6 linked regions of the Homo sapiens genome follow. The protein of the gene in region 1 purifies or fractionates together with the protein of each later gene. This does not show direct contact. Each region holds a gene or a part of one and is shown in the gene's direction. Other genes may lie near its edges. The genes, in order: UTP14A, DIMT1, DDX21, PARN, RPF2 and NOP14.

Evidence for each region.
Region 2: the proteins of UTP14A (region 1) and DIMT1 purify together in Homo sapiens (affinity purification with mass spectrometry; one large-scale study listed by BioGRID and IntAct). This does not show direct contact.
Region 3: the proteins of UTP14A (region 1) and DDX21 purify together in Homo sapiens (co-immunoprecipitation; one large-scale study listed by IntAct). This does not show direct contact.
Region 4: the proteins of UTP14A (region 1) and PARN purify together in Homo sapiens (affinity purification with mass spectrometry; one large-scale study listed by BioGRID and IntAct). This does not show direct contact.
Region 5: the proteins of UTP14A (region 1) and RPF2 fractionate together in Homo sapiens (co-fractionation; one large-scale study listed by BioGRID). This does not show direct contact.
Region 6: the proteins of UTP14A (region 1) and NOP14 purify together in Homo sapiens (affinity purification with mass spectrometry; one large-scale study listed by BioGRID and IntAct). This does not show direct contact.

The regions. Positions count from the first base shown.
Region 1 is NC_000023.11:129,916,164-129,919,663, forward strand, and holds part of UTP14A (U3 small nucleolar RNA-associated protein 14 homolog A), read left to right. Parts: intron 1-3,011; coding exon 3,012-3,131; intron 3,132-3,231; coding exon 3,232-3,326; intron 3,327-3,500. UniProt on the Homo sapiens protein: May be required for ribosome biogenesis.
Region 2 is NC_000005.10:62,390,406-62,393,905, reverse strand, and holds part of DIMT1 (dimethyladenosine transferase), read left to right. Parts: intron 1-915; coding exon 916-980; intron 981-1,671; coding exon 1,672-1,735; intron 1,736-1,899; coding exon of another isoform or gene 1,900-1,935; exon of another isoform or gene 1,936-2,187; intron 2,188-2,880; exon of another isoform or gene 2,881-2,923; coding exon 2,924-3,030; exon of another isoform or gene 3,031-3,500. UniProt on the Homo sapiens protein: Specifically dimethylates two adjacent adenosines in the loop of a conserved hairpin near the 3'-end of 18S rRNA in the 40S particle.
Region 3 is NC_000010.11:68,959,170-68,962,669, forward strand, and holds part of DDX21 (nucleolar RNA helicase 2), read left to right. Parts: intron 1-636; coding exon 637-1,080; intron 1,081-2,912; coding exon 2,913-2,988; intron 2,989-3,500.
Region 4 is NC_000016.10:14,581,761-14,585,260, reverse strand, and holds part of PARN (poly(A)-specific ribonuclease PARN), read left to right. Parts: intron 1-469; coding exon 470-512; intron 513-838; coding exon 839-914; intron 915-2,969; coding exon 2,970-3,080; intron 3,081-3,500. UniProt on the Homo sapiens protein: 3'-exoribonuclease that has a preference for poly(A) tails of mRNAs, thereby efficiently degrading poly(A) tails.
Region 5 is NC_000006.12:110,985,038-110,988,537, forward strand, and holds part of RPF2 (ribosome production factor 2 homolog), read left to right. Parts: coding exon 1-101; intron 102-3,500. UniProt on the Homo sapiens protein: Involved in ribosomal large subunit assembly. May regulate the localization of the 5S RNP/5S ribonucleoprotein particle to the nucleolus.
Region 6 is NC_000004.12:2,949,907-2,953,406, reverse strand, and holds part of NOP14 (nucleolar protein 14), read left to right. Parts: intron 1-1,009; coding exon 1,010-1,132; intron 1,133-2,161; coding exon 2,162-2,293; intron 2,294-2,328; exon of another isoform or gene 2,329-3,193; coding exon 3,194-3,473; intron 3,474-3,500. UniProt on the Homo sapiens protein: Involved in nucleolar processing of pre-18S ribosomal RNA. Has a role in the nuclear export of 40S pre-ribosomal subunit to the cytoplasm.

The DNA.
Region 1 (3,500 bases):
CAGGATGGTCTCGATCTCCTGACCTCGTGATCCGCCCACCTCGGCCTCCCAGAATGCTGGGATTACAGGAGTGAAAATTTCATAACTTTCGACTATCACTCTCAACCCCTTCTTTGAAGCTCCAGTCTCATATTCCATGTGACTAGCAGGGATCACCTGGGTCCCCCATATGCACCTTAAACTTAGTCCAGTCCAAAGTAAGCTTCGCATTTCCTTTCCCCAGACTTCCAAAACCTATACCACCCCCTTCATTCTGCAACTCAGTTAACAGCATAACTCCCTACCCCAGTCACTTAGGTTGGAAACCTCAGTCATTTGATTCCTTCTTGACCCCTTCACTGTCTCCCTCTCCGCCAGCTTATACAGGGGGCTAGACCTGCAAATTCTGTCTCTGTAATAGCCCTTATGCTCCTATTTTCTCTTCATTTTCATTTTCACTGCCCTAATCGAGGCCCTCATTGAACCTTTCCTTTGGAACTTTACATATATCCTCTACACAATCAGCAGGATTTTCTTGCTGAAACACAGTTGATCATTGCTCTCCTGCTTAAAATCCTTCAAAGGCTGTTCACTTACAGAATAAAATAAAATTACGTAGCATTTTAGCTATGCTGGACAACACGTTGTTCTATTACATACCACTCCTTTCCCTGTGTCTGTGTTTTTTGCTTATGCTCATCTGTTTGGATTTTTTTTCCTCCTGACAGAATTGTACTTAGGCCTCAAAGCCTAATTCAAAAGGTCACTTCCTTCCCTAAGCCTAACCTACCTCCCAATAATATTTAATGGTAATTTCCTCTGTGATTACCCCTATAGAATAACGTAGCAGTTATGTTATTTAAGGGTAACATAAAGGGTATTTAACCCATTATGTTATGCTGTTTGTGTTGTATATGTCTCTGCTCTCAAAGGCTGTGAGCTCTATGAGGACAGGAACTATCTTAATCAATTGTGTATTCCTAGCACCCCATACAAGTGCCTGGAATATAGCTACAATCAATAAATGTTTGTAAATTGAATTGAATTGAAGGGACATTACAACATTGTAGTATAAATCACTTTGTAGCCTGAGATTGATCACTACTGCAAATACTAAAAGTGGAAGAACATATACCTTTACTATTCAGTAGAATAGTTTTATGGTTAAATCAATAGCATCGTGTAACATGTGATGATGTGCGTTTATGCATTTATCCAAATATTTGTAAGTTTAATACTGACCACGATGTATATGGCTATTGAAGAAAACCACACATAATATGTGTGTGAGGTTTGAAACTAGCTCTGTTGCCTAGGGCTGTCTTTGTGCCTTGCCAGAATGTGGACCGTGGCATGATCGGCCTGAATATTTAGCCATCCTCATGATAGCATGTGGAATAACTGGTTTACAGTTCATTCGTTTCATACATACTCTGCCTAGCATGTAAAATTAACTGGAAACTGAGGAATTGGAGCCAAAGTTAGAAAATGAGGAGAGTTCAACTTGAACCATCAGGAAACAGGCTGATTACATGAAGGTCTTTTTGTTTGTTTGTTTTTAACATAATAAATAGAGATGGGGTTTCACCATGTTGCCCAGGCTGGTCTCAAACTTGTGGGCTCAAGCAATCCTCCTGCCTCAGCCTCCCGAAGTGCTGGGATTACAGGCCTGAGCCACCATGCCCATCCTATATTTTTTTTCAGGCAATATCCTTTTGTGCTCAAGAAATTAAGACACACACCCCACCACAAACTACATTTGAAGACTCTGCCAAAAAAATGCCATGTTTTTTCTCATTTTCTTTCATCAGTAATTAATGATACCAAGAACACTTATATGCATGGTTTATAGCAGTTGGCTATGGTCAAAAAAAGTTGGGCTTCCCCTCTGAGACATTTGCAGATATATGTCCTAGGTATACCATCAGTGGCAAATAATGCTTATCTTAAGATCTAATCTCACAGGGCATGCTGGGCTCACGCCTGTAATCCCAGCACTTTGGGAGGCCAAGGCAGGAGGATGGCTTGAGGCCAGGAGTTTAAGACCAACCTGGGCAACATGGCAGGACCCTGTCTCTACAAAAAATAAAAAAAGTTAGCCAGGCATGGTGGCTTACACTTGTGGTCCCAGCTGCGCAGGAGGCTGAGGCAGAAGGATCACTTGAGCACTAGAGGTGGAGGTTGCAGTGAGCTGAGATTGGAGTGCCAGTGGACTCCAGCCTGGGTGACAGAGCAAGACTCTGTCTCAGAAAACAAAAAAAAAAAAAAAAAAAACTAACCGCCCCTTCCCTCTAGAAATATTCTAAAAGAAGGCTTATGATATGAATTTGAGATTCCTAACTATAAAGTAATAGTTATGTGCTTCAAATGATACATAACAATACAGGGACTCAAGGGCAATGTGCCTAGATTCTTAAGAGAATGGAAATCAGTTTAACATATATTGGTAATCTGGGCCGGCGCGGTGGCTCACGCCTGTAATCCCAGCACTTTGGGAGGCCGAGGCGGGCGGATCACGAGGTCAGGAGATCGAGACCATCCCGGCTAACACGGTGAAACCCTGTCTCTACTAAAAATACAAAAAATTAGCTGGGCGTGGTGGCAGGCATCTGTAGTCCCAGCTACTCGGGAGGCTGGGGCAGGAGAATGGCGTGAACTCAGGAGGCGGAGCTTGCAGTGAGCCGAGATCACGCCACTGCACTTCAGCCTGGGCGACAGAGCAAGACTCCATCTCAAAGAAAAAAGAAAAAAAAAAACATATATTGGTAACCTGAACACAGTGATCCCCCTCAGCAGTATTAGAGAGTAGCCTCAGCGTCTCCCTGCTGAAGTTGTCTTATATAAGAATCAAATAAGGCTTTATTTATACTTCTGACAACAAGACTGGAACCCCCTTCTCTTGCTGTAACAGCCAATCCTATCCACTTATGATTCCAATTATAGTGTCATAAGTTAGAGAATCATAGGAATGTAAAGAGAGAAAGCTGTAAGAGCATGGCTTAAGACTCAGAATGTTTTGTTGCTTCTTTAAGGCAAGAACTCCCCTGGAGCAGGAAATTTTCAACCTCCTCCATAAGAACAAGCAGCCAGTGACAGACCCTTTACTGACCCCTGTGGAAAAGGCCTCTCTCCGAGCCATGAGCCTAGAAGAGGTAAGTGTGTCATAGGCCCTTCAGCACACCCAGGCATGCCACGCTTCTCCTAGCATTTGTCCTCTGGCCCAGGTGTCACTGTAAGTCTCATTTGTTGTAGGCAAAGATGCGACGAGCAGAGCTTCAGAGGGCTCGGGCTCTGCAGTCCTACTATGAGGCCAAGGCTCGAAGAGAGAAGAAAATCAAAAGTAAAAAGTAAGGAGGCCCCTGTGAACTGGCCTTGGGTTCCACAGAAGAAAGTCATGTGGTTCATCATGAATTCTTTGGAGAGAACCTTTGATGCAGCAACTAGAGTCATGCAGATGAGGTCCCAAACAGGAGTGACTAGCCTTTTGTTCCCCCCAAACCAACCTCATACAGTTTTGCCAA
Region 2 (3,500 bases), on another chromosome or scaffold:
GGGAAGATGTGTGCCTATAACAGCAGAAAAATATTGAATCAACCTAAATATTCAAACATAGGAAAATGTTAATTAGGACACATCCCTGTGCTGAAGTAGATGGAATAATTTGATGCAAGGTAGTTTTGAAGTGAGACCCAGTCTCAAAAAAAAAAAAGAAAAAATGGAATAAAACTAGGAAAACAAGGTAAAATGAAAATAGTTGTTTTAAAGTAGTATTATGGGTAACATCTTTTCATTGTAATTGTTTTTTGAGATTTAAAAACAAGAAAGAAGACCACTTGATATAAAACCTTACTACAGCCACATTAGAGAAAAACGTGATTGTGTGTGTGGTCAACTGGTGGTAAATGGAGTGGTTTGTCAATAACTCCTTCAAGGAGGTTTAGGTGTGTTACACAGGAAGTATCTGAAGTCATGTCTGTTTTGAATCTTATTTTTGAAAATGATACTTAGATTTAAATAAACGCCATGTTCTTTGTTCAGATGTGGGACCATTTTGTTTTTCCTTCCCTTTCTTTTTTTAAGATGGGGTTTCACTATGTTGCCTAGGCTGGACTTGAACTTTTGGTCTCAAGCGATCCTCCCACCTCAGCCTCCTGAGTAGCTGGTACTACAGGCATGCAGCACTGTGCCTGGCTTTATTTTTTCAAATTAAAAAAAAAAATTGTCATGCTTTGTCAAAAAAAAATTCTGAGGAAAAGACATATTCAGTGAAATGCGCCAAAGTGCAAAAATCAAATGTATGTCTTACTTTTGCATGTGTGTGCCAGCCAGATCAAGATTACAGAACATTTTCTTCACTTCAGAAAGTTTCCTTCAATTGTATATATTAAAAGACAAAATAATACCTAGTGGGCATAGACAAGAACAAGAAGTTTGTAATTTGAAGAAAATGTCTATCTTCTATTTCAGGAATGGGATGGTCTAGTAAGGATAACCTTTGTTAGGAAAAACAAGACACTCTCTGCTGCATTTAAGTAAGTATTACACTAATTTCTAATGTATAAAGGGCCAGTGCTCCAGATACTATGCTAGAATTTGGTCCTTTTCCTGAGCAGCTACCCTAAAGCATAAAGATTATGGGTCCAGACAAACTTCACCTTTTAAACTATCTTTAGAGCTTGGGAGGCTCTAAAGCAAACTTAATGAAGAAAGTTTGCTGGAGTTGAGAGTCAGATCACATTTTTTGGCAAAACAGGAAAACACTCCCAAACTCTGACCATATATCTGCTCTAGTTTTTTGTTGGAAAAATGAGGTGATGATGGACCCCTTCCACACTTGTGAAGGATATGTGTCATGTAATTAACCTGGGAAAATGCAGCTCATCAATTTGGGGTTCAAGGGTAAAAGAGAGGTGAGACACAGTTTTACAGGGCTTGGAGATTTTTTTTTAGGGGATTTTTTGTGGAGAGTCTAGAACTTCTCTAAGAATTTAAGAGGTATTAGGATTTTGCACTTTAAATATATTTAGTGTTTGCTTCATAAGTTTAAATATTCAACAACTTTTAAAATTCCTTAATTTCACCATACAGAATATAGATTTAATTTCATCTAAAATGAAATTATTGCTTAAATGGCTTATGTATTAGTTAAAAAAAAGTTTAAAAAAGTAAGAAATTACTCTGACTTTGGAATAATAACAGTGGCATCACTTCTTTATGCTATAGATCAAGTGCAGTGCAACAACTCTTGGAAAAAAACTACAGAATTCACTGTTCAGTCCATAATATTGTAAGTTAGAAAATGTTCCTGCAGTTTCATTGATTTGTTTTCTTTTAAAATGTCCATTTTTATTCTTGTTGATCTAGCATGAGATTATTTTGTACATTCCATAAGATCCTTAAAAGACAATATATAATGTATAACTAGCACAATTTTGACTTGAATTCTGACAGGTCAGTGCTGCTGTGTATCCTGTGAAACAGATATGAGCAACTTTGATTACTCCACCCTGTCCTCTAACTACTGACAGTTGTTTTTAGCCATAACAAGAATCAGATTCAGCAGTTACAGGTTCCTCAAAGCTGTAGATATGTGTAGCTTGCACAACTTAAAATAATTGTGTAGTTTACTGTCCTCTGAATTGTGACCACGTCTTGTTTCTTGCTCACATAGCAGTTACAAATATAGTTATTACTTTCTTTGTATAGAAATTGAAATAAAGTTCATATGGCTCAATAGCAGATTTCTGGTTGTGAGCCTCATGCGTATCATTTGTGTAACAGTGTGTGCGATGTGATGTTTGCTATCTTTTTAGCTTCCAGTTTAATTAGAACAGAGAGAGAAAGGCCAATTTTCTTTTTATTTTTTATGACTCAGAACCTATATGGTTTAATGTATCACAATACTATCTCCATTTTCTCTTTTATGGGCAAAAAGTCATTAGATAATCTGCCTAAGTATAATAGAAAAATATTAAGCTAGATTAAGAAAAATATTTGGATAAAATATGTGAATTAAGTGTAAAATCCTTTTGGATAAAATATGTGAATTAAGTGTAAAATCCTTAATATTCCCAAGGCTTGGGCAGGTCACCTCTTTGAGAAAAATGAGGTGGTTAAGGTCAAATCTGTAGGAAGAAAATGCATTATTTTGAAAGGAGTAACAATTGCTTTAAAATTTAATTTACAGTTGTAATTATTTGTGAAGTCTGAAACTAATAACTATTTCAGAATTTTAAAGAAGAAAATGGCTAATATAGACAGGATTACTAATTCAAGGTATTCCAAGTTTTTGTTAATAAAGATCAGCCACTTTTAATTAGAGATCCAAGTCTTAATGTAAAAATCAGGCTTTCCAAAGTCTCATTAACAGATATATTAAAGGTGACTATTTTATGACTTACTGAACTAAAAAAAAGAGTCAAGGTGACCTCATTAAAGATATGTCGTTCATTTATTCTGAATCTTATATTGATAGATAATACCAGAAGATTTCAGCATAGCAGATAAAATACAGCAAATCCTAACCAGCACAGGTTTTAGTGACAAACGGGCCCGTTCCATGGACATAGATGACTTCATCAGGTAATTACATTTTTGTTTTCCTAAGTGTTTACATTTCTTTACTGTGACACCTTCAGATTGGAGATTTTAAAGGCTTTTAAGCGGTATAAGGTGCTACCTGGGAGAGTTATTGCATAGCACTTCCATGGCATGGAATAGTATTTGGTGTAGAAGATGGAGGCTAGTTAGCTGCAGCAGAATGAACATTTTCTTTAAGAACAGTAGTAAAGAACAGTCCGAGCCAGAAGATTGCCTTTGTGTTAATGTGGTGTGCAGGTTCCAATGTGGTGTGCAGGTTCCTCCCTTCCTGCTCCTTCCCCAACTCTCATTCATAGTCTTAGTCTTAATAGCTTATCCCTCCAAAATAGTCCATAAGGTAGAAAAATCATAATACATGTAACTGGATCTGATTTTTAAAATTTCCTTACTGGGAATAGCTGTTGTTAAATCAATCTTAAGCATACAATAATGCCAGTTAGAATCCTACCTGG
Region 3 (3,500 bases), on another chromosome or scaffold:
GTATCCCATGAGCTTATCCAAATCCCTTATGAAAATCTGGTTTATAGGCCAAGCACGGTGGCTCATGTAATCCTAGCAGTTTGGGAGGCCGGAGTGGGTGGGTTGCCTGAGCTCAGGAGTTTGAGACCAGCCTGGGCAACATGGGAAAACCCCACCTCTACTAAAAATACAAAAATTCGCTGGGTGTGGTGGTGGGCGCCTGTAGTCCCAGGTACTCGGGAGGCTGAGGCATGAGAATAACTTGAACTCAGGAGTGGAGGTTTCAGTGAGCTGAGATTGTGCCACTTCACTACAGCCTGGGCGACAGAGCGAGACTCTGTCTCAAAAAAGAAAATCTGTTTTACAACTGTTTGACCCACATGAGTTGAATAGTTACTAAGGGGCACTCTTCATTTTCCAAGATAGTGAAACTATTGATATATACCCGTCTATATATATAGCTAAGAAGCGATTTTAGAAAAAGCTTACTATTTTGATTTTTACCTTATCACAGCATGAAAGTACAAATGTCGAAATGCCCCAAAATTGTATTTTTTAAAGTTGAAAATGATCTTGAAATAATCCAGAATTGATGAATGTTGCAAATGTATAAATGCCTTATTCAGTGTTTGTATTTTCCTTATGAATTTTTTTTAGAAAGAGAAAAAAGAGAAGCCAAAATCTGATAAGACTGAAGAGATAGCAGAAGAGGAAGAAACTGTTTTCCCCAAAGCTAAACAAGTTAAAAAGAAAGCAGAGCCTTCTGAAGTTGACATGAATTCTCCTAAATCCAAAAAGGCAAAAAAGAAAGAGGAGCCATCTCAAAATGACATTTCTCCTAAAACCAAAAGTTTGAGAAAGAAAAAGGAGCCCATTGAAAAGAAAGTGGTTTCTTCTAAAACCAAAAAAGTGACAAAAAATGAGGAGCCTTCTGAGGAAGAAATAGATGCTCCTAAGCCCAAGAAGATGAAGAAAGAAAAGGAAATGAATGGAGAAACTAGAGAGAAAAGCCCCAAACTGAAGAATGGATTTCCTCATCCTGAACCGGACTGTAACCCCAGTGAAGCTGCCAGTGAAGAAAGTAACAGTGAGATAGAGCAGGTACATTTGCACTTCATTGGGTAGAAGATATCTTTCATTGTTGTTTCAGATAAATAAGTAGGTAACTGCTATATGTACTCTTTAATAGTAGGAGAAAATGTGATGTGTCAGCACCTTGTGGGTTGGGGGATACCTTAGGCTGACTGGGACTTCATCTTAAAAATTAGCATACGACAGGGCATGGTGGCTCAGCTAAGAGTACTCTGTCTTTTTTATTTTTTTATTTTTTTGAGACAGAGTCTCGCTCTGTCACCTAGGCTGGAGTACAGTGGCACGATCTCAGCTCACTGCAACCTCTGCCTCCTGGGTTCAAGTGATTCTCCTACCTTAGCCTCCTCAGTAGGTGGGATTACGGGTGTGTGCTATCACGCCTGGCTAATTTTTTGTATTTTTAGTAGAGGCGGGCTTTCACCATGTTGGCCAGGCTGGTCTCGAACTCCCAACCCCAGGTGATCTGCCCGCCTGGGCCTCCCAAAGTGTTGGGATTACAGGCATGAGCTACTGTTCCCAGCGGACTCTGTCTTTAAAAAAAAAAAAAAAAAAATTAGCATAGTGTCACAATGCCTCCTTTACAAATAAGCAGATACTGCTTAAGCTTAGGGAGAGTCTTGGTCTGCTTATTTGCAAGTCAGTCAACAGAAGAGATACAGTTTTGTAAATGGGCCCTAGTTTCCCTCTGAGGGGTTTAACCAAATAAATTATTGGAATTACTGAAAAGGTTGATTGCATAAGTCCTTTTGGTTAGGCCATTAAGTAATCATCCTGGAGTTGAACAGGATGATAAAATGTCTGTCCAGAACCTAATTCTGTTATCTTTCAGAAACTCAGTTATGAAAGAAATACGAATTGTATTAAAAAAATTTGTTTTAGACATGGGATCTCGCTGTGTGGCCCAGGCTGGTCTAGAACTTGTGGCTTCAAGCGATAATCCCGCCTAAGCCTCCCGAGTAGCTGGGATTACAGGCACAAGCCACCACACCCAGCTGAAAAATACTAATTCTAATAGATTTTCTTTTTGCTATAGATCATGGTCAACATTTGTAACTTTTTTCCTGATTATAAAAAATATGTGATCCAGAGAAAATAGAAAATGCAGACATTTTGCAAAAAGAAAGAAATGCTTCCTGGAATTTCACCATTCATTTAGTAAATATTAATACCTGTACTTTTCAAGTACAGAAGTCATCTTGTTAATTTTTGGTGTTTCCTTGTAGTACTTTTAGTATATGCATCTATTATTTTTAATCAGATTAGGATTGTACTGTGCAATCTTGTATCTTTTTTGTTTCTAGCTAAGCATTTTCCTCGTTAAGTACGCTTAATGGTTACATAATCCTTCATATAAATGTCTTGAAATCTACTTACTACTTGTATTGAGCATTCAGATATCTTACTATCAAATAATGCCACAGTGACTGCTACCTCATAAAATGTTTGTTCATTTTCTATGGATGTGTGTATACAAGAGATGCTGCTTTGGAAGAGGGCTAATGACATTTCCATCAGTATATTGTTGATTATGGTTATGGAGTAGATCTTAGTTGAGATCTAGTCACACATAATCTTAGTTGAGATCTTAGTTGAGATCTAGTTACCCAGTATATATTTGCCTCAGATTTTTCTTTTGTTAAAGTTTTATAGATTTATGACAATGTTTCCTTTTCAGATCTCGAGTTACCTATCAAGGTTTTTGTATCTTTTTGGTTGATTTTTAAAGTGATGTGTTTAGAAGAATTGCTTTAGGATAGCTTGTTTTGTCTCTTTCTCAGAAGGTTCTCTATTAATTTGTGTAGGTGATTATTGATTTCTTTCTATGGCCCTTTACTTGATAGGAAATACCTGTGGAACAAAAAGAAGGCGCTTTCTCTAATTTTCCCATATCTGAAGAAACTATTAAACTTCTCAAAGGTAATGTTCTTGGAAATATCGTATGATGTTAGAACGTATTATTTTAACAGAAGCACTCCACTATTTTTGTTAAGATGAACCAGGATGTATTCTTATTGTAGGCTGATATATGCAGTCATATAATGAAGTAGGCCTGTGTATTCAATTTAGTACTATAGTAGTGATGGTTCTTCATGCTTCTTAAACAAGTGGTTAAAGCTTTTTCAGGCCCTCTGTGGTGGCTCACACCTGTAATTGATTGAGGCCAGGAGTTTGAGATCTTCCTGGGTAACATAGTGAGAACCTGTCCCGACAAAAAGTTTAAAAATTAGCTGGGCACGTGGTAACACACATCTATAGTCCTAACTACTCCAGAGGCTGAGGAAGGAAGATCGCTTGAGCCCAGGAGTTCAAGGCTTCAGTGAACTGTGGTCACACCACTGCACGCCAGCCTGGGTGACAGAATGAAACCCTGTCTCAAAAAAAATTGTATTTAATACAGTGTGTATTCAGAAGTGTATTGACTAATGGTG
Region 4 (3,500 bases), on another chromosome or scaffold:
CTGATTGTAGATTTTGGCCCTGCAGAAGAATTTATAGTTTACAAACCTGAGGAGTAGGAGTAGATGGTAGCAGTTTGGGAATGGTAGACCGGCAGCAGTATTTGAACCACGTAAAACCATGTGAGAGTATTTGACTCACCCTTGAGATTGATGGAGCCCAGGCTCTCTGAGGATCCAGGTGAATCTAGAACTTGTACTCCAAGTGTGGACTCTCCTGCAGTTGCTCAATGAAGTCGCTGATGATGGGACTGAGTACCTACTCCAACGTAGCAGGGATGCTGGTGCTGGGTTCAAAATGGCCAATGTGTTTAATTACTTTGTCTGTGTTTAAGTATTTTCTGTATTAAACATTTTATGTTTTAATTATGTTTTTTATGTATGAAGTATTTTAAGTAGCTTACATATTTGAGTAAAAGACATTTTAAACATTGATATACATTTTGTTTACCTTGTTAAAAATTCTTTTTAGACTCTTGGATACTAAATTGATGGCCAGCACACAACCTTTTAAGGTATTATTCATTTGCTACTTTATAAAGCGACTGCATATTACTGAGTGAAATGAATGCCAGAACAATATAGCCTTCTGGCAAAAGGTTTGGAGGTATTTAATGCATCTGTAAAGATCTTTATTCATTTGGTTATACTTTGTATATTATAAAAATTAAACTAGCTGCTTCTCTTTCACATTGAAAAAAACGAAGACTTCTGTGTTTCTTTAAAGAACACAAGGAGACAGTACTAGATGCTGTCTTTTTTTTGGGGGGGTCAGTGAATCTCTTTAATATATTGTTCTGAGATGATGAAATCTCATAATTCTTTGCTTCGTGGTTTGCAGGATATCATTAACAACACATCCCTTGCGGAATTGGAAAAGCGGTTAAAAGAGACACCTTTCAACCCTCCTAAAGTTGGTAAGAATATTAAACCGGAAACCCTCCAAACTCTTTGTAATAATTATTGATGTATATTGTAGAAGAAAAGCAGAATGGCTCTGGAGACCGTATTGTTCATTTATAGATTTTGGCTGAATTCACTTGCACGTACCGTGTGTTGAATTATTGTTTTTTGAATAAAGATGGTCTTTTAATTCTACATATATTTTATGTTAATGGAGTTGGGTAGCCATTCATTGAGAATTTTAGCAATTAAAGCTTCAAGGCTTCTATTTTCTAATAATATGGAATTCTCCTAAAACTTGATGTGCCCTTTTATTCTTTCATACATTATTGAAGCAGAGACAAAGAGCTAGTGATTAATCACCAGGGGTAGAGTAAAAAATATATTTTCCATCTCAGAAAAGCCCGAGAACTGGATTTACAGGTGAGATTAAGGCAAGTCCCCACCCTGCCTCCTTTTCAGCTGGTTTAGAGAGTAGAAACAGCAGCACTGAGGAAAACCAGAAGTAGGGAGATGAGATGGAGGTGTTTTGCCACCTCGGGCCACCACCAAGGTATGTGGAGAGCCTACCAGGTGCTACTTCCTTGGTCCCTGTTAACCTGATTGTGCTGCTGATACGGTGATTAGCGAGCCATTAGTTGTAGCCTGAAAACTTCTAAAGACATGGATAATAGGACTAATGGTTTAGAAATTGATAATGCAAAGTATTAAAGCAGCCAAGATTACAGTTATTTGCCCCTTTCTGGGTAATAGTCCAAGAAAGGAATTAAGAAAAGTGGTGGTGGGGCCATTGGGGGAGAAAACGTGGACCTTTTCTATAACAATATAATGGAAATAATTGATTTTGGAAAGAATGTGTCTCAGTTGATGATGGAGTGGAAGATATTACTTAGGTGGCTACCATGTTAAAAGGCTTTTTTTTAAAGGCATCAAGTCTAATATTTAATATGGAGTTAAAGAATTCTTGCTTAAAGAGCATTGTATTGACATAAAAACAGTTACAGCCTTTTCATTGTTAATTTCCATTTATGCTTTTGATTCTGTGTTATAGTAACCTTCCTGACATTCATTTCCAGAATGGTTCTAGGATATAATTATTTATGAGTTATAGTTTTATGTTATTATTTCCATATAAAATAGTGGTATCTGGTAGAGAATTCAGTCTAAAGCAGGTCATTCCTCTTATAGTTTATCTGGTCACATCTGTATTTATCAATGTCACAAAAGAACCATATTGTATATAAAGCGGTCTTTGCTGTAAAGTGGTTCCATGATCCAAGGCCAGCATTATAGCAAGTTCGATTTATTTTTGGAGTTGGTTGTGCTGTCACCTTTCGATCTCTAAGCTTGGGAACATAGTAGAGGACAGTAGTGAGTTGGAGCTGTTGATAGTGAATTGCAGTCTTCTCTTTTTTTGGGGGAGGGTTGCCTCAGGTATTGATAGATAACAGTTTTTGAGCACTTACTATGTACCAAGCACTAGGTAAGAGTTTAACTTATATTATCTTATCTGATCCTAACAATAACCTTTTGAAGAAGGTTTGATTATCATCTCTGTTTTACAAAACTGGAACCTTAGGGATGAAGTGACTTGCCCAAGGTCATACCGCAAATAAGTGGTGGAGCAGAGATTCGAACTCAGTGTGACTCCAGAGCCCATGCTCTTAATCTTTACTCTGGATCATCTATTGTGGCCTGATGTGACCATCTTGTATAAGGGAAGAATATCCTTTTCATGGCCTTAGAAAGCAAGCAGAAGAGGAATCATTGTCCTAGAGTGAGTTATGGATGATCATAAATAGCACCCACCAGTGTGGGACGAGAAAGCCCACGGCTGAGTCCTTTGTAATCTAACTGAGGCATTTCTGTATCCTAGACCAAAGCCCTCCTTTTCAGTGACTCTGTTATCTTGTATTTTAAGGTCTTATATAGAGAGAATTAAGGAATAGATAGCTTTTTTCTGCCTATTTAGGGTATTTCTCTAGCATATGCTAATGCAATTTTGATTGGTAGGGCAATGTGCTTACTAGTCTTTGTTTTGAGGAAAACTTTTTCCTTTTTTTTCTTAGAAAGTGCCGAAGGTTTTCCAAGTTATGACACAGCCTCTGAACAACTCCACGAGGCAGGCTACGATGCCTACATCACAGGGCTGTGCTTCATCTCCATGGCCAATTACCTAGGTACGCATTACATGTCTTTCAGTCAAACACGCAGTGATCTAGGGTGGATCTTACCTGTCTCCTGGCTTAGGCTGCTGTAATAAATTACTGTCGAGTGTGGGGCTTAAACAACAGACATTTATTTCTCATGTTCAGGAGGCTGGAAAGTCCAAGACCCAGTTGCCAGCAGACCTAGTATCTGGTGAGAGCCCACTTCCTGGTTTGCAGATGGCTGCCTTCTCCTGTCCTTACGTGGTGGAGAGCAGAGAGAGCAGAAGCTGTGCCGCCTCTTTTTTAAGAGTCAGGGTCTCACTCTGTCACCCAGGCTGGAAGTACAGTGGTTCAATCATAGCTTACTGCAACGCTGAACTCCTGGGCTCAGCCTCCCAAGTAGCTGGGACTACTGGTGTGCATCACTGTGCCTGGCTAACTTTTTAATTT
Region 5 (3,500 bases), on another chromosome or scaffold:
TTGAGAAGAGAGAACCGAAACTCAATGAAAATATTAAAAATGCCATGCTGATTAAAGGGGGAAATGCAAATGCAACAGTGACAAAAGTACTTAAAGATGTGGTAAGTATATATACTTAATCTTTAAAAGGTATTGAAGTCATTTTAGAATTTTCAGCATGCTAGGATGGGCTGTCGGAGAAATACGTAGATAAGCTTGCCTTACCATAAGAACTACTAGTCTTAGAGAAGAGCTAAAGTTGGGGGTTTATTTACCTTGCGTGGCACCTTTTCTTAAAGCAACTAGTTCTCTTAGTAAATTTTATTATTGTTTTTTAGGAGCACAGGTGGGTCTGGTAGAGTGAAGGTCTCCCTTAGTAAATTTAAACTGTTTTCAATTACTAGAATTTGGCTTACTTACATTTTAGGAAAAAATCTAATTTGTAAAGAGAAGTAACTGCATATTGCTGTATATTTAGTCATTCAACAACACCGGTTACTGTGCCTCTGCTGGGAATTAATAGGTGAGACACAGTTCTTTCAGTGAGCTTAGAGAGATAGACATGTAAAAAGTTCTTACACTGTGCTGTGCTGGAGGCATGGACAGGGTAGGGTGGGAAACAGTTAAAATCACATAGGGGAGGCCAGGCACGGTGGTTCACGCCTGTAATCCCAGCACTTTGGGAGGCCGAGGCAGGAGGATCACGAAGTCAGAAGTTCGAGACCAGCCTGGCCAACATGGTGAAACCCCGTCTCTACTAAAAGTACAAAAATTAGCCGGGTGTGGTGGCGGGCGCCTGTAGTCCCAGTTGCTCGGGAGGCTGAGGCAGGAGAATCGCCTGAACCTGGGAGGTGGAGGTCACAGTCAGTCGAGATTGTGCCACTGCTCCAGCCTGAGTGACAGAGAGAGACTCCATTTCAAAAAAAAAAAAAAAAAATCACATAGGGGGACCCCCACACAGGGTAGGTTCCCCCAGAGATAACACTGCAGCTTCATTTTGAAGGAGAAGTTGGTGCAAGAAGTGGGAGAGAAAGAGAAGATCCTCTGAGGCTGAGAAAGAAGTTTGTGCAAAAGGGAGTATGAAGGAGCATTGATGCATTTGGAGAACTGTAAATAATTGGGCATGGCCAAAGGAGAGTGGGCTAGATGAGGCTAGAAGAGGAGGCATGGGTCACATAGTAACATGAAATTTGAATTCTAATCTGAAAGCTCCGTGTAATCATTGAAAGATATTAAGCAAGAGATACCATCAGTCCTTTTAATTGGCTTGATTAGAGAGGGTTGAGAGCAAATGTAGGAAACTAAGCCATTGCTGCCAGCTAGGTGAAGAGCATCTGGAGTCCAGTGGTGGCAATGAAAATGAGAAATGACCAGAAAGAATAGATGTTGAGGAAAGAAGAGTTGGGAACTAGTGAAAAGTATGACTTCCCAGGTGTTTGGCTTGAGTGCCTGATGGGCAATAATGCCAATTAGAAAATGTATCAAGCGGAGCAGGTTTGGAGGGAAAGGTGAAAGGTTCGGTTTGGGACATGTAATTTAAGTAATGAAAATAAAAGCTTTGTTTTTTCTACCTCTGTAGCCTAGTGTACAGCCCAGTGTCTGGACATAGTAGGTACTCAATATATATGTAATCTATGAAAGAAAGGCATAGTATGGGCCAGGCACAGTGGCTCACACCTGTAATCCCAGCACTTTGGGAGGCCGAGGTGGGCGGATCACGGGGTCAGGAGTTCGAGACCAGCCTGGCTAACACGGTGAAATCCTGTCTCTACTAAAAATGCAAAAATTAGCCAGCCATGGTGGTGGGCGCCTGTAATCCCAGCTACTAGGGAGGCTGAGGCCGGAAAATCTGCTTGGACCTGGGAGATGGAGGTTGGAGTGAGCTGAGACCACGCCATTGCACTTACTCCAGCCTGGGTAACAGAGCAAGACTCCAACTAAAAAAAAAAAAAAGACATAGTATGTGGAGATATCTAGTAGGTTATTTGACTAATTAGGCCTTGAGTACAGCCAATAGATCTTTGAATTAAATCAATTAAGTAATCGAATACATTTTTGTTGTTGTTATTGAGGTGGAGTCTCACGCTGTTGCCCAGGCTGAAGTGCAGTGGTGCCATCTTGGCTTACTGCAACCTCTGACTCCCGGGTTCAGGCGATTCTCCTGCCTCTAGCCTCCCAAGTAGCTGGGAGCCACCACACCCAGCTAATTTCTGTGTTCTTTTAGTAGAGACAGGGTTTCACCATGTTGGCCAGGCTGGTCACAAACTCCTGACCTGACATGATCTGTCCGCCTCGGCCTCCCAAAGTGCTGAGATTACAGGAGTGAGCCACCATGCCTGGCTTTGAATATATTTTAAACTTGACCAAACTCTATGCCTGATAAGCATAGTCAATTCAGATGTCTGAATGCCTTATATAGGCCCATCCCTTTTTTGAAATGTTTGTCTGAATTTCATTGTGCTAACGGGAAACTGCCCCTCTCCTTCTAGTATCCATCAGCACAATGACCCTGCATATTTAAGTAAGCTTTAAAAGCAGCACAATATTACAGATTACTACAATAATTAAAATTCATCATGATGACTCTGAGTCATCAAGAAGAGGTGGCAATGTTTATTACACGGAAACAGGGAAATAGTTGGCCAAGAATCATCAAAAGTTTTAGTACTTAAAAAGGTAGATTTTACTGTTGCATTTTCTTTGTTCACCAACTCTGATAGTTGATGAATGATTATTATACCTTATTTTTCATTGTTTCCCTCATTTACCCATTTCTCTAATGCAAGGTAGTACCTGATGACATCTTTGTTATTCTCTATGGTAGAGCAGTACTGGCCATACAAGTAATAAATGATTATAGGCCAGGTGTGGTGGCTCACACCTGTAATCCCAGCACTTTGGGAGGCTGAGGTGGGAGGATCACTTAAGCCTAGGATGACAGCCTGGACAACAAAGTGAGACCCCATCTCTATAAATTAAATTTAAAAAAATAATAAAATACAGCCTGGACAACATGGTGAAACCCCATCTCCACTCAAAATACAAAAATTAGCTGGGCGTGGTGCATGTGTCTGTACTTGGGAGGCTGAGATGGGAGGATCACCTGAGCCCTGGAGTTTCAGGCTGCAGTAAGCTTTAATCACGCCATTGCACTCCAGCCTGGGCAACAGAGTGAGACCCTGTCTCAAAAATAAATAAATAAAATAAAATGAATGATTATTTGTGGATAGGTAGAACTAGGAAAAAAATGAAGAACATTGAATAATAGGCATTTTTTAAAGAGCTGTGTTTAACCTCTGGCTAGTATTCTAATTGTCATCATTATTACTGTTTCTAAGTTTTCTGATCTCCACGCAACATTATTTCAATCTGTCAGCCTTTCGTGATAGAATTTATTTTTTCTGTTTTTGTCTACTACTTTTTTTTTTTTTTTTTCTGAGACAGGGTCTCACTCTATCACCAGAGCTGGAGTGCAGTGGTGCAATCACGGTTCACCACAGCCTCGAATTCCTGAGCTCGGG
Region 6 (3,500 bases), on another chromosome or scaffold:
TAGGGCAAGTTTCTGTTGAACATTGATACTGAATTACCTGCTGTGTGTAATCTTGGGGTGGAAGTAGATTCAGTTACTTGAGTCTCTATTGCAGGTGAATTAAACTGAAAAAAGTGGTGTTTCTGGATGGAAGAAGTACTTCAGGGTGGACACGTTAGAATAGGTGTCTGAACTTCCCTGTGACATGTTTGTCTGTTGATACATAATACATACATTTAATATACATTTACTTATTTTTGCCTCTGTAAACAGTTGTTTCCTACTGCATTCTCTTTAGTCGAAACTATTGGAAAATGCTGCATTTGTTTAAGAAACTGCGTTCTCAGAGAAGTCTAGATCCCAGCAGATTAGTGTCATGTGGTCATCTGTGCATCTTTGTCAGTCAGCCTTGATGTTACCGTTACTTTACTTAGTTTCCCACGTTTAGGGCGTAATGCCTGGATAAGTAGCGTTTTTGTTGTTGTTTGAGACGGAGTCTCGCTCTGTCACCCAGGCTGGAGTGTAGTGCAACCTCCACCTCACTGCAACCTCCACCTCCTGGGTTCAAGTGATTCTCTTGCCTCAGCCTCCCGGGTAGCTGGGATTACAGGCGCGTGCCACCATGCTTGACTAATTTTTGTATTTTTAGTAAAGACAGGGTTTCACCATGTTGGGCCAGGCTGATCTCAAACTCCTGACCTCACGTGATCTGCCCACCTTGGCCTCCCAAAGTGCTGGGATTACAGGCGTGAGCCACTGCACCTGGCCTGTTTTCGTTAAAGCAGATGTATTCTGAGAATTTTTCTAGGGGTAAACAAATTCTTTGTGACCGAATGTCCACTGATTTCGCAATCCTCAGGGCTTATCAGAACAGTTTTCTCTCTAGAAGAAAAGACGTAGATGTGGCTTAGCTACTTCAATAACATTATCTAGCCATTACTAGAATGTGCCAGGAAGCTAGATCTTTTCTTTTTGTAAAATAAGAAATAAATATATTTTTAAAATGAAGAATTTCTTCTTTCTACCTTAGCCCGATGCATATGACATGATGGTTCGCGAGCTTGGCTTTGAAATGAAGGCGCAGCCCTCTAACAGGATGAAGACGGAGGCAGAATTGGCAAAGGAAGAGCAGGAGCACCTCAGGAAGCTGGAGGTAGGGTGGCAGCACCTCAGGAGCAGGGCTGTGCTGCTGTCCGTCCACAGCCCCTTCTGCTCCATTTTGCAGGATGGGCTGAAGAGAATACTCTGTTTGATCAGTGGAATATTTTAGTCTATTTAAAGTTTATATTTATTCATGAATACCTTTTTTTTTTTTTTTCTTTGAGACAGAGTTTCGCTCTGTCACCCAGCTAGAGTACAGTGGCACAATCTTGGCTCACTGCAAACTCCACCTCCTGGGTTCAAGTGATTCTCCTGCCTCAGCCTCCTGAGTAGCTAGGATTACAGGCGCCTGCCACCACGCCCGGCTAATTTTTGTATTTTTAGTAGAGATAGGATTTCGCCATGTTGGCCAGGCGGTCTTGAACTCCTGACCTCAGGTGATCCAGTCACCTCGGCCTCCCAAAGTGCTGGGATTACAGGTGTGAGCCACCGCGCCTGGCCCCAGCTAATTTTCAAAAATTGTTTGTATAGATGAGCATCTCCCTATGTTGCCTAGGCTGTTCTCAAACTCCTGGTCTCAGCTGATCCTCCCACCACGGCCTCCCACAGTGCTGGGGTTACAGGTGTGGGCTGCCATCACAGCTGGCTCAGCTGGCTGTTTTGACATAACCACATCACTAGCTTCTTCCCGTGTCCAGTGTGTGGTCAAATAGTGGAGGCCGTGGAGCTGCTTGCTCTTGGCGTCCTGGCTCCTATTCTCTCGGTGCAGGGGGTGATGAGTCCCAGTCGGGGCTGGCCAGCAGAATTGGGCTGTGAAGGCCTCAGAATAATAGGCTTGCCTGGTGACTGGAGAGTATTGGCCACAAAGTTTGAACAGTTGATTTTGTTAAATGAGGAATGTGCTGCTTAGCTAGTGTTTGCATGCCTGATTGAAAACTGCAGGCAGAAAGCAGGCTGGATGCACCAGCCTCAGAGCTGGGAGGACCGTAGGCCCAGCCCGCTGCCCAGGGCAGGACTGCACGGCCCCCTCACCATATGTTGGAAGAGTGTGCTCTAAGACATCTCATTCCTTCCTGCTCAGGCTGAGAGACTTCGAAGAATGCTTGGAAAGGATGAGGATGAAAATGTTAAGAAACCAAAACATATGTCAGCAGATGATCTGAATGATGGCTTCGTGCTAGATAAAGATGACAGGCGTTTGCTTTCCTACAAAGTAAGATGTTTGCCTTCATTTTCTCTTTCTCTCTCTTTTTTTAATTTAAAAACATTTTTTTGGTATTCATTTTAGGGATTTATTACAGTTGGGAATTTTAAATCTTTTTAACCAGTTTCTCTAAAGTTCTTTATCTGGGTGTTTATGGTATATCAGATATTAAAACTTTAGAGAGAAGACTTTAACAATAGTATGTGCACTCACTTGCTCACGCTCTCTTTCTCACTCTCTCTCTCTGTCTCAAAGGAACACAGATAAAACTGATTACTCGGTTAACATCAACTACTTTTGTTAATAACTGTATGATTCTATCTGCATGACCTCATCATACTATTGAGGGAGCTAACTCAAGGCTAGAGTTGTGAATTTTCTTTGAGTGATGTCATTGAGTTTCCATGACTGGTGTAGTTTTTAATTCACGAACTTTATAAATCGGTACCCTTTTCTCGTTTTAAGAGTGTATCAGTCAGGGTCCAGGGAAGAAAAATAGGCAGGACAGGTTTCAAGCAGAAGAGATCCACACAGGAAAATGGATACTGATAAAAACACTAGGTTACCTGGAGGAGCAGAAGGTGCTGTAGACACTCCTCCTGCTAAAGCCCGCAGCCACTGTACACCTTCCAAATCCCAGTCCCATGCTGCTCCCTGGCAAAAGCTGAACCGCGCCCAGCATCCTGCCGCAGGGTTCTCTAGCAGCCTGTAGCTCCTGCGGCTCGAATAGCCTAGAAGCGGGTGGTGGGCAGGAGGCCTAGTGCCAGTGGGCAAATGGAGCACACAGGTTTGTGTTCCTTGCAACCACGTAGAAAGCCCTGATGTGGGCAGCCTCTTGATGTGGCTGTGAGATGGTCCAGCGTTGTCTCCGCCTGTCCTCATGCCCTGTGGTTTCCACGCTCTTGGTAGGATGGAAAGATGAATGTCGAGGAAGATGTCCAGGAAGAGCAAAGCAAGGAAGCCAGTGACCCTGAGAGCAACGAGGAAGAAGGTGACAGTTCAGGCGGGGAGGACACAGAGGAGAGCGACAGCCCAGATAGCCACTTGGACCTGGAATCCAACGTGGAGAGTGAGGAAGAAAACGAGAAGCCAGCAAAAGAGCAGAGGCAGACTCCTGGGAAAGGGTTGATAAGCGGCAAGGAAAGAGCTGGAAAAGCTACCAGAGACGAGCTGCCCTACACGTTCGCAGGTGGGCAAGTGCGCGGGTTTCCTCAGG